2 linked regions of the Homo sapiens genome follow. The protein of the gene in region 2 interacts with the protein of the main gene of each other region in a biochemical or structural test. Each region holds a gene or a part of one and is shown on either strand. Other genes may lie near its edges. The genes, in order: ATF7 and TAOK3.

Region 1 (3,822 bases), about 65 Mb from region 2:
TCTCATCATGTTTCCCAGGCTGGTCTCGAACTGCTGGGCTCAAACAGTCCTCCTGCCTTAGCCTCCCAAAGTGCTGAGATTACACGCATGAGCTACTGTGCCTGGCCAGATTTTTTGACATTAGATGAAATTCTGTTTCGGAAACTTTTTTTTTTTTCTGAGGCAGGGTCTCCCTCTGTCTCCCAGGCTGGAGTGCAATGGCGCCATCTTGGCTCACTGCAGTCTCTGCCTCCTGGGCTCAAGTGATTATCCTGCCTCCGCCTCCTGAGTAGCTAGGACTACAGATGTGCGCCACCGTGCCCATCTAATTTTTGTATTTTTTGTAGAGACAGAGTTTCCCATGTTGCCTAGGCTGGTCTTGAATTCCTAAGTTCAGGTGATCTGCCTGCTTTGGCCTCCCAAAGTGCTGGAATTACAGGCTGGGCCCCCATGCCCAGCTTGTTTTGGAAACTCTTCTTTTTTTTTTCTTTTTTTTTTTTTTTTTGACACGGAGTCTCGCTCTGTCTCCCAGGATGCAGTGCAGTGGTGTAATCTCAGCTCACTGCAACTTCTGCCTCCTGGGTTCAAGGAGTTCTCCCCCTCAGCCTCCCAAGTAGCTGGGACTGCAGGCACATGCCACCACGCCTGGCTAATTTTTGTATTTTTAGTAGAGACGTGGTTTCACCATGTTGCAGGCTGGTCTCAAACTCCTGGCCTCAGTTGATGCGCCCACCTGGGCCTCCCAAAGTGCTGGGCTTACAGTGTGAGCCACCTGCCCTTGGAAACTCTTTTAGGAAAAAAACTTTATTCCCTGGACATTTCAACTTAGAAATGAAAGAATTAAACTACTCTCTGAAAACAATTTTATGTAGTTTCCCTGTAATGTTGACATCTCCAATTTAGACCTAACTTTTCATTTTCTTCTTTTTTTTTTTTTTTGGAGACAGAGTCTTGCTATGTCAGCCAGGCTGGAGTGCAGTGGTGCAGTCTTGGCTCACTGCAACCTCTGCCTCCCAGGTTCAAGCAATTCTCATGCCTCAGCCTCCCAAGTAGCTGGGACTACAGGTGCCCACCACTGCGCCCGGCTAACTTTTTGTGTTTTAGTAGAGATGGGGTTTCACCATGTTGCTCAGGGTGGTCTCGAACGCCTGAGCTCAGGCAATCCACCTACCTCAGCGTCCCAAAGTGCTGGGATTACAGGCAAGAACCATCGCGTCCGACCCTAACTTTTCATTTTCTGTTTGGAATAAAAACCTATACCAACTATAAACACACACACACACACACAATTGCCATTTATAATTGTAGTTTATTGGCAAGGATGGTCTAAGTTTGCCAGGTCTAAGTGTTGTAGGTGAAGGGTGCTACAAATGAGATACAACTTCAGAAGACATCTCTAGGGACTAAAGACTTTACATTGGCAGGCAGCAACTTTTCCTGCTTGTTAATTTTAGACCTGACAGTTGAATTTATGTTTGAGCAATTTTAGCTGATAAATGCATTTTTTAAGTACCTTCCTCTTTTGGCATTTTAATTTTTACTTTCGTTTTTAAAAAATTGCAAATCGTGAATGAATGTGCATATTAAATTAGCATGCTACTAGGCAGGGAAACAATGCATTTTCTTTTGATACCTTCTCATCCATCTGATAGCATTAGTTATGAATTCTCCTGGAAAGCAGAAGGATGGACTCGATAACCCCTCAAGGTTCTTTTCAGGCCAGAACTTTCATAAATAGAAGTTAAGATCAAGGAACTTACTCTTGAAGAATCAGGAAGAAAAATAGACTGTAAAGAAAATAAAATTGAAATGTTTCTGTCGACCCAGTGGGAATGGATAAACACAAGTAAGGAACATAAATGACGAGAAATAATAACTCCTTTGAGCTAAAAACAAAACAAAAATCAACAACAACAAATATTTTGCATTGGAGTCATTTTATATCTTAAAAATATTTTATCATGACATTTTCTCTTCGACATTTCCCTTGTGGACACTTTGTGTTGAAAGAATGTTGGGTTTTGTTCCTGTTAAATCATAGTATTTTGTTTCCTTCCTTTCTCTTGTTTGTCCTTTTGTTTAAAAACTTTTTTTTTTTTTTTGGTCTTCTGTATAATGGACTGACTGCCTGTTTACAATGAGGCAAGATTCAATTCAATTTTGAAAGTATTTGCTATATCACTTCCTCGGAAATGAAGGATGAGTGTTACAATTCAGGAAAGGTTGTATGAAAAGATAAACTTGTATAAAAAGATAAGCTTTTAAAATTTTGTAGGCAAACATTTAACGAAGGTTCCCAACCAAAGCAAAGGTGAGTTAGTATAGTAGTCTTTTTTTTATTATTATTTAAAAAAATTTTTTTTGAGACATAGTCTTGCTCTGTCACCCAGGCTGGAGTGCAGTGGCACAATCTTGGCTCACTGCAGCCTCCGGCTTCTGATTACAAGCAATTCTTCTGCCTCAGCCTCCCGAGTAGCTGGGATTACAGTTGCCTGCCACTATGCTTGGCTAATTTTTGTATTTTTAGTAGAGACGGGGTTTCAACCATGTTGGCCAGGCTGCTCTCGCACCCGTGACCTCAAATGATCCACCCACCTTGACCTCCCCAAGTGCTGGGATTACAGGTGTGAGCCACTGTGCCTGGCCTAGTATAGTAGTTTTAAGAAGGACATAATACATAAGCATTGGTTGGGCACAGTAGTTCACACCTATAATCCTAGCACTTTGGGAGGCTTGGGCCCAGGAGTTCGAGACCAGCCTGGGCAACATGACAAAACCCTGTCTCTATAAAAAATACAAAAATTAGCTGAGTGTGGTGACATGCGTTTGTAGCGCCAGCTACTTGGGAGGCTGAAGCGGGAGGATTGCTTCAGCTCAGGAAGCAGAGTTTGCAGCCAGCCCAGGTTGCAGCACTGCACTCCAGCCTGGGCAACAAAGTGATACCCTGTCTCAAAGAAAGAAATAATACATAAGTTTACAGTAAAACTCATTACAAACCCTTGACTTCAGGTTGTTAGCTTTTTCTCACCTTTTTTTTTTTTTTTTTGGAGACAGAGTCGTTCTCTGTTGCCTAGGCTGGAGTACAGTGGCATGGTCTCGGCTCACTGCAATCTCCGCCTCCCAGGTTCAAGCAGTTCTCCTGCCTCAGCCTCCTGAGTAGCTGGGATTACAGGCACACGCTGCTACACCTGGCTAATTTTTTAGGTATCTTAGTAGAGATGGGGTTTCACTGTGTTGCCCAGGCTGGTCTCGAACTCCTGAGCTCAGGCAATCCACCCGCCTCAGCCTTCCAAAGTGCTGGGATTACAGGAATGAGCCACCGCACCCGGCCACGCCTTTTCTCATCTTTTGGCAATTTTAATCCTCAGTGTTCCCATACATTTGAAACCAGAATGTGCATAAAGTTTCTTTTTTTCTTTTCAATATTGTATCTCTTCTTAATAAATATCATGAAAGTCTATGAAAGTGTAGGTTGGGTGAGTTGGCCCACACATGTAATCCCAACACTTTGGGAGGCTGAGGTGGGCAGATTGCTTGAGCTTGGAGTTCGAGACCAGCCTGAGCAACACAGGGAGACCCCATCTCTACAAAAAATTTTAAAATTAGCTGGGCTTGGTGGTGCACGCCTTTAGTCCTAGCTACTTGGGAGGCCAACGCGGGAGGATTACTTGAGCCTGGGAGGCGGGGGTTTCAGTGAGCTGACATCACGCCACTGCACTCTAGCCTGGGTAACAGAGTGAGACCCTGGCTCAAAAAAACCCAAAAGTAAACTAACGGGAGCCAAGATTTAGCTTAGAAAGTCATTTCATGAGCTTGTGGCATGGACATCTGTGGTCACATGTT
Region 2 (3,822 bases):
TTATTATATATATTTATTATATATTTGTTTATTTATAATATTTATTTTATATATAGTCTTAAGAAAGTGGGCCTGCCATTTGCAGCAATACATGTGAACCCAGAAGACATTATGCTAAGTGAGATAAACCAGACACACAAAAAAATAGCATATGATGTCACTTACATGTGGAAAGTAAACAAAGAATAAAACACAAAATGAAAGGTGGTTGAAAGGGATGGGGAATGGAAAGATGAAAGTCAAATGGTACAAAGTTTTAGTTATGTGGGATAAATAAGTGTAGAGATCCAGTGTACAGCATGAGGACTATAGTTGATAATATTGTATTATATCTGGGAAATTTGCTAAGACTAAAGATTTTCGGTACTTTGCCACCAAGAAGTAACTATATGAGATAATAGATATGTTAATTTGCTTAACTGTAGAAATCATTTCACTATATATATGTGTATCAAAACATGTTGCCATATACTTTAAATATGTACAATTTTTAAAAAGAATTCTCACATCCGCAAAATGGGGCTTAAGGAAGAAGAAAAAAGCATAGCTATCTCTTTATGAGATTTACAAAATATGGAAGGACACATGACATGAAAATCATATTTTGTTATTTCTGTAATATCCATAGAACTATTTTATGATTCTCTATTTCCTTTTATATCTGTACCTTGCACCTAAGGACATTTCTTCATTATCAGTTTATTTTTTCCTCCTCCCTCAATCAGCATGACTTTGTTCGACGAGACCGGCCACTACGTGTCCTCATTGACCTCATACAGAGGACAAAAGATGCAGTTCGTGAGCTAGATAACCTACAGTACCGAAAAATGAAAAAAATACTTTTCCAAGAGACACGGAATGGACCCTTGAATGAGTCACAGGAGGATGAGGAAGTAGGTTCAATTTATTTTAGCAGGCACTTATAGAATGCCCACTATGTGAAAAAGTTCTAGACTGGGCACTATGAAAAACTTTTGAAGATAAAAATTAATTGATGCTGTCCGCCTTAAGAAACATGAAGGGTTGTACAAGAGACATTCATAAAATAACACTTATATAAGGCAAAATATGAAAAGTGCTACAGAGGTGTAACCCCATTGCAGGGGTCCATCATGGGGAGAAAATAAGTCTGCTGGTGGGATTAGTGAAGGTTTCCTGGAGGACATGATGTGGGTAGTTTCTGACAAATGGGCATAGGGTGTTCTAGACTCAGAAAGGTGTTGTGCTTTAGGAAGATTATCCTAGCAACAGAGTGTAACATGGATTTGAATGGGCAACATCCTGGCTAATAGTCCATGCAAGAGGTAATAAGGTCAGTGTCGATGCAAATGGGGAAAAGGGAGCACTTTAGAGAAACATCGTAGAGGTAGATTTCATAATCCATGGCTTCTCATTGACAGTGACAGATAAGGAGGAGTTTAAGGTGACTCTGAGCATTGGAGCCTGGGTGGCTAGGAGTATGTCAATACCAAGAACAGAGAAAAAGAACCAGGGAGAAAGAGTAGATTTAGGATGATTTCAGTTTCGTGCCTTTTGAGTTTAAGGTCCTGGCATTATAAACTCTTGCCAGTATACAGATAGAAGTTTTCAGTTAGAGAATCCTTGATGACCTTAGTAAAAGCAGTTTTACAGGACTAGGTAGAATGAATAGTAGATTACTGGAGTTGTATAATTCATGGGAGTTGATAAGAGGGAGACAGGAAAAAATAATTATGTTAAGATTCAGAAATTGGGTTAAGAAGGAAAAGTAAGAGTGGGCAGCATGTAGAGAGATCCATAAATATAAGGCAGGCTTCTTCATCTTTAAATGCAGTAGAGATGGAGCCAGGGCAGAGTCAGAGGCACCGAAGATAGAAGAAAGGGATATAGTTAAAGAGGCAGGATTTCAGAACGTAGACATAACAAGAACAGGAGTATTTTAGCTTTTTAACAGAAAATAAAATAAACATAAAAGTATTTTATCAATAATTTTAAAAATGAAGCTCGGAAAGTTGCATTGAACTATAAAATTTCTTGATTGCATATATAGAAATGATCCCCTTTAATTGGGAAAATAAGTCTGTTAAAAATAATGTATTATCTTCCATTTTATATTACCCAGTAATTTTTTATATTGCCATGGCTAAGTAACAGTTTATTAAAGTTATATGTGTACCATATGGTTTTTTGAGAACAAGGTTTATTTGTAGCTAAATGGATTTAATTTTATTATTCAATCTTATATCAAAAGATATCCCACTGTGATGGATAAATTATATGTTCTGATTATTTTACCACTTTTCAAATAGTAGTCTTTGGGCCAGTAATGATGAATACCAGTATTATTTAACAGATATATATAATAAGATTACAGAGATAAGCATGATAGAATCGCTTGAGGGAGGCAGACTTTAATTACCTGTCCAGGAAAGTAGAATTAATATTTCTGCTTAGATATGAAGTTACTCAATAATGACTTGCAGAGGGAGCATATTGCTTGTCAAATATCTGAAAACTCTTTCCACTCTACTTTTTCAAGTGACCACTGCTGTATTTGAAGATATCCTAGAGCTCACCTGTTTAGTGGCCAGCAGTCTTCCTCTAGCTCCTTGATGTTCCAGAAGGTCCCTTACAAACCTGGCTTGATTTTGCTTACTGAATAGCAACACGATAATATGATAGTGTGTATGACAGGGGAAAGCCCTGGGATGGCAGCATTTGGAGCCTTATGACCCACGTCCAGAATGGCCCCTGGGGAAGGCATAGGAAGCAAATATGAGATGTATGAAAATGGTGGAGGAGTAGTGGAGCCAGTACATAAAAAGTTTGTCTTTGCAGATTGGCAGAAAAGCAACTTGACACTGCAAAATTGAGTGTGCTTGACACTTTTGTCAATGGATTGACTCTTTATCTTCAGTCTTTTTTTCTAACCTCAGTGCCCCATTTTTACAGGACAGTGAACATGGAACCAGCCTGAACAGGGAAATGGACAGCCTGGGCAGCAACCATTCCATTCCAAGCATGTCCGTGAGCACAGGCAGCCAGAGCAGCAGTGTGAACAGCATGCAGGAAGTCATGGACGAGAGCAGTTCCGAACTTGTCATGATGCACGATGACGAAAGCACAATCAATTCCAGCTCCTCCGTCGTGCATAAGAAAGTAGGTTTCTTGGTACCCTCCACAGAGGTGAGCTTTGTCAATCATAGCGAATCCAGTTCAAGTCACTTAGCTTCCAGATGTTTCAGTTACCTTTTTGCAACTGCAGTGTGGTACTAAACCTGGCATGTGACAGTTTTCTTACAGTCAAAAAGTAACAAAGGACTACACAGGCTACATCTGTGCCTATTTCTTCATCTCCCTCTCTCATTACTCTGATGTCCATCATCATCAATAAATAAGTTGAAGAATTTGATAAGTCCTTCTCTAAACCAATAATCTTAATACTGTAGACCTTCAAGTCTTCCTGAGTGTACCTGTTGGTTGTGCCCTTTTAGAAGTATGCTCTTTCAAAAGTATGTTTCTTGGCTGGGCGTGGTGGCTCACATCTGTAATCCCAGCCCTTTGGGAGGCCTAGGCGGGTGGATCACTTGAGGTCAGGAGTTTGAGACCAGCCTGGCCAACATGGCGAAACCCCGTCTTTACTAAAAATACAAAAAATAGCCGGGCCTGGTGACATATGCCTGTAATCCCAGCTACTCGAGAGGCTGAGGCAGGAGAATTGCTTGAACCCAGGAGGCAGAGGTTGTAGTGAGCCGAGATCGCGCCATTGCACTCCAGCCTGGGCAACAGAGTGAGACTCAAAAAAAAAAAAAAAAAAAAAGAAGAAGAAGAAAGAAAGAAACT

Evidence for each region.
Region 1: the proteins of TAOK3 (region 2) and ATF7 form a complex in vitro, tested with the Homo sapiens proteins (one large-scale study listed by BioGRID).

Annotation. Positions count from the first base shown.
Region 1 is NC_000012.12:53,616,149-53,619,970, reverse strand, and holds part of ATF7 (cyclic AMP-dependent transcription factor ATF-7), read left to right. Parts: intron 1-3,822. UniProt on the Homo sapiens protein: Stress-responsive chromatin regulator that plays a role in various biological processes including innate immunological memory, adipocyte differentiation or telomerase regulation.
Region 2 is NC_000012.12:118,198,367-118,202,188, reverse strand, and holds part of TAOK3 (serine/threonine-protein kinase TAO3), read left to right. Parts: intron 1-725; coding exon 726-893; intron 894-2,931; coding exon 2,932-3,138; coding exon of another isoform or gene 3,139-3,165; intron 3,166-3,822. UniProt on the Homo sapiens protein: Serine/threonine-protein kinase that acts as a regulator of the p38/MAPK14 stress-activated MAPK cascade and of the MAPK8/JNK cascade.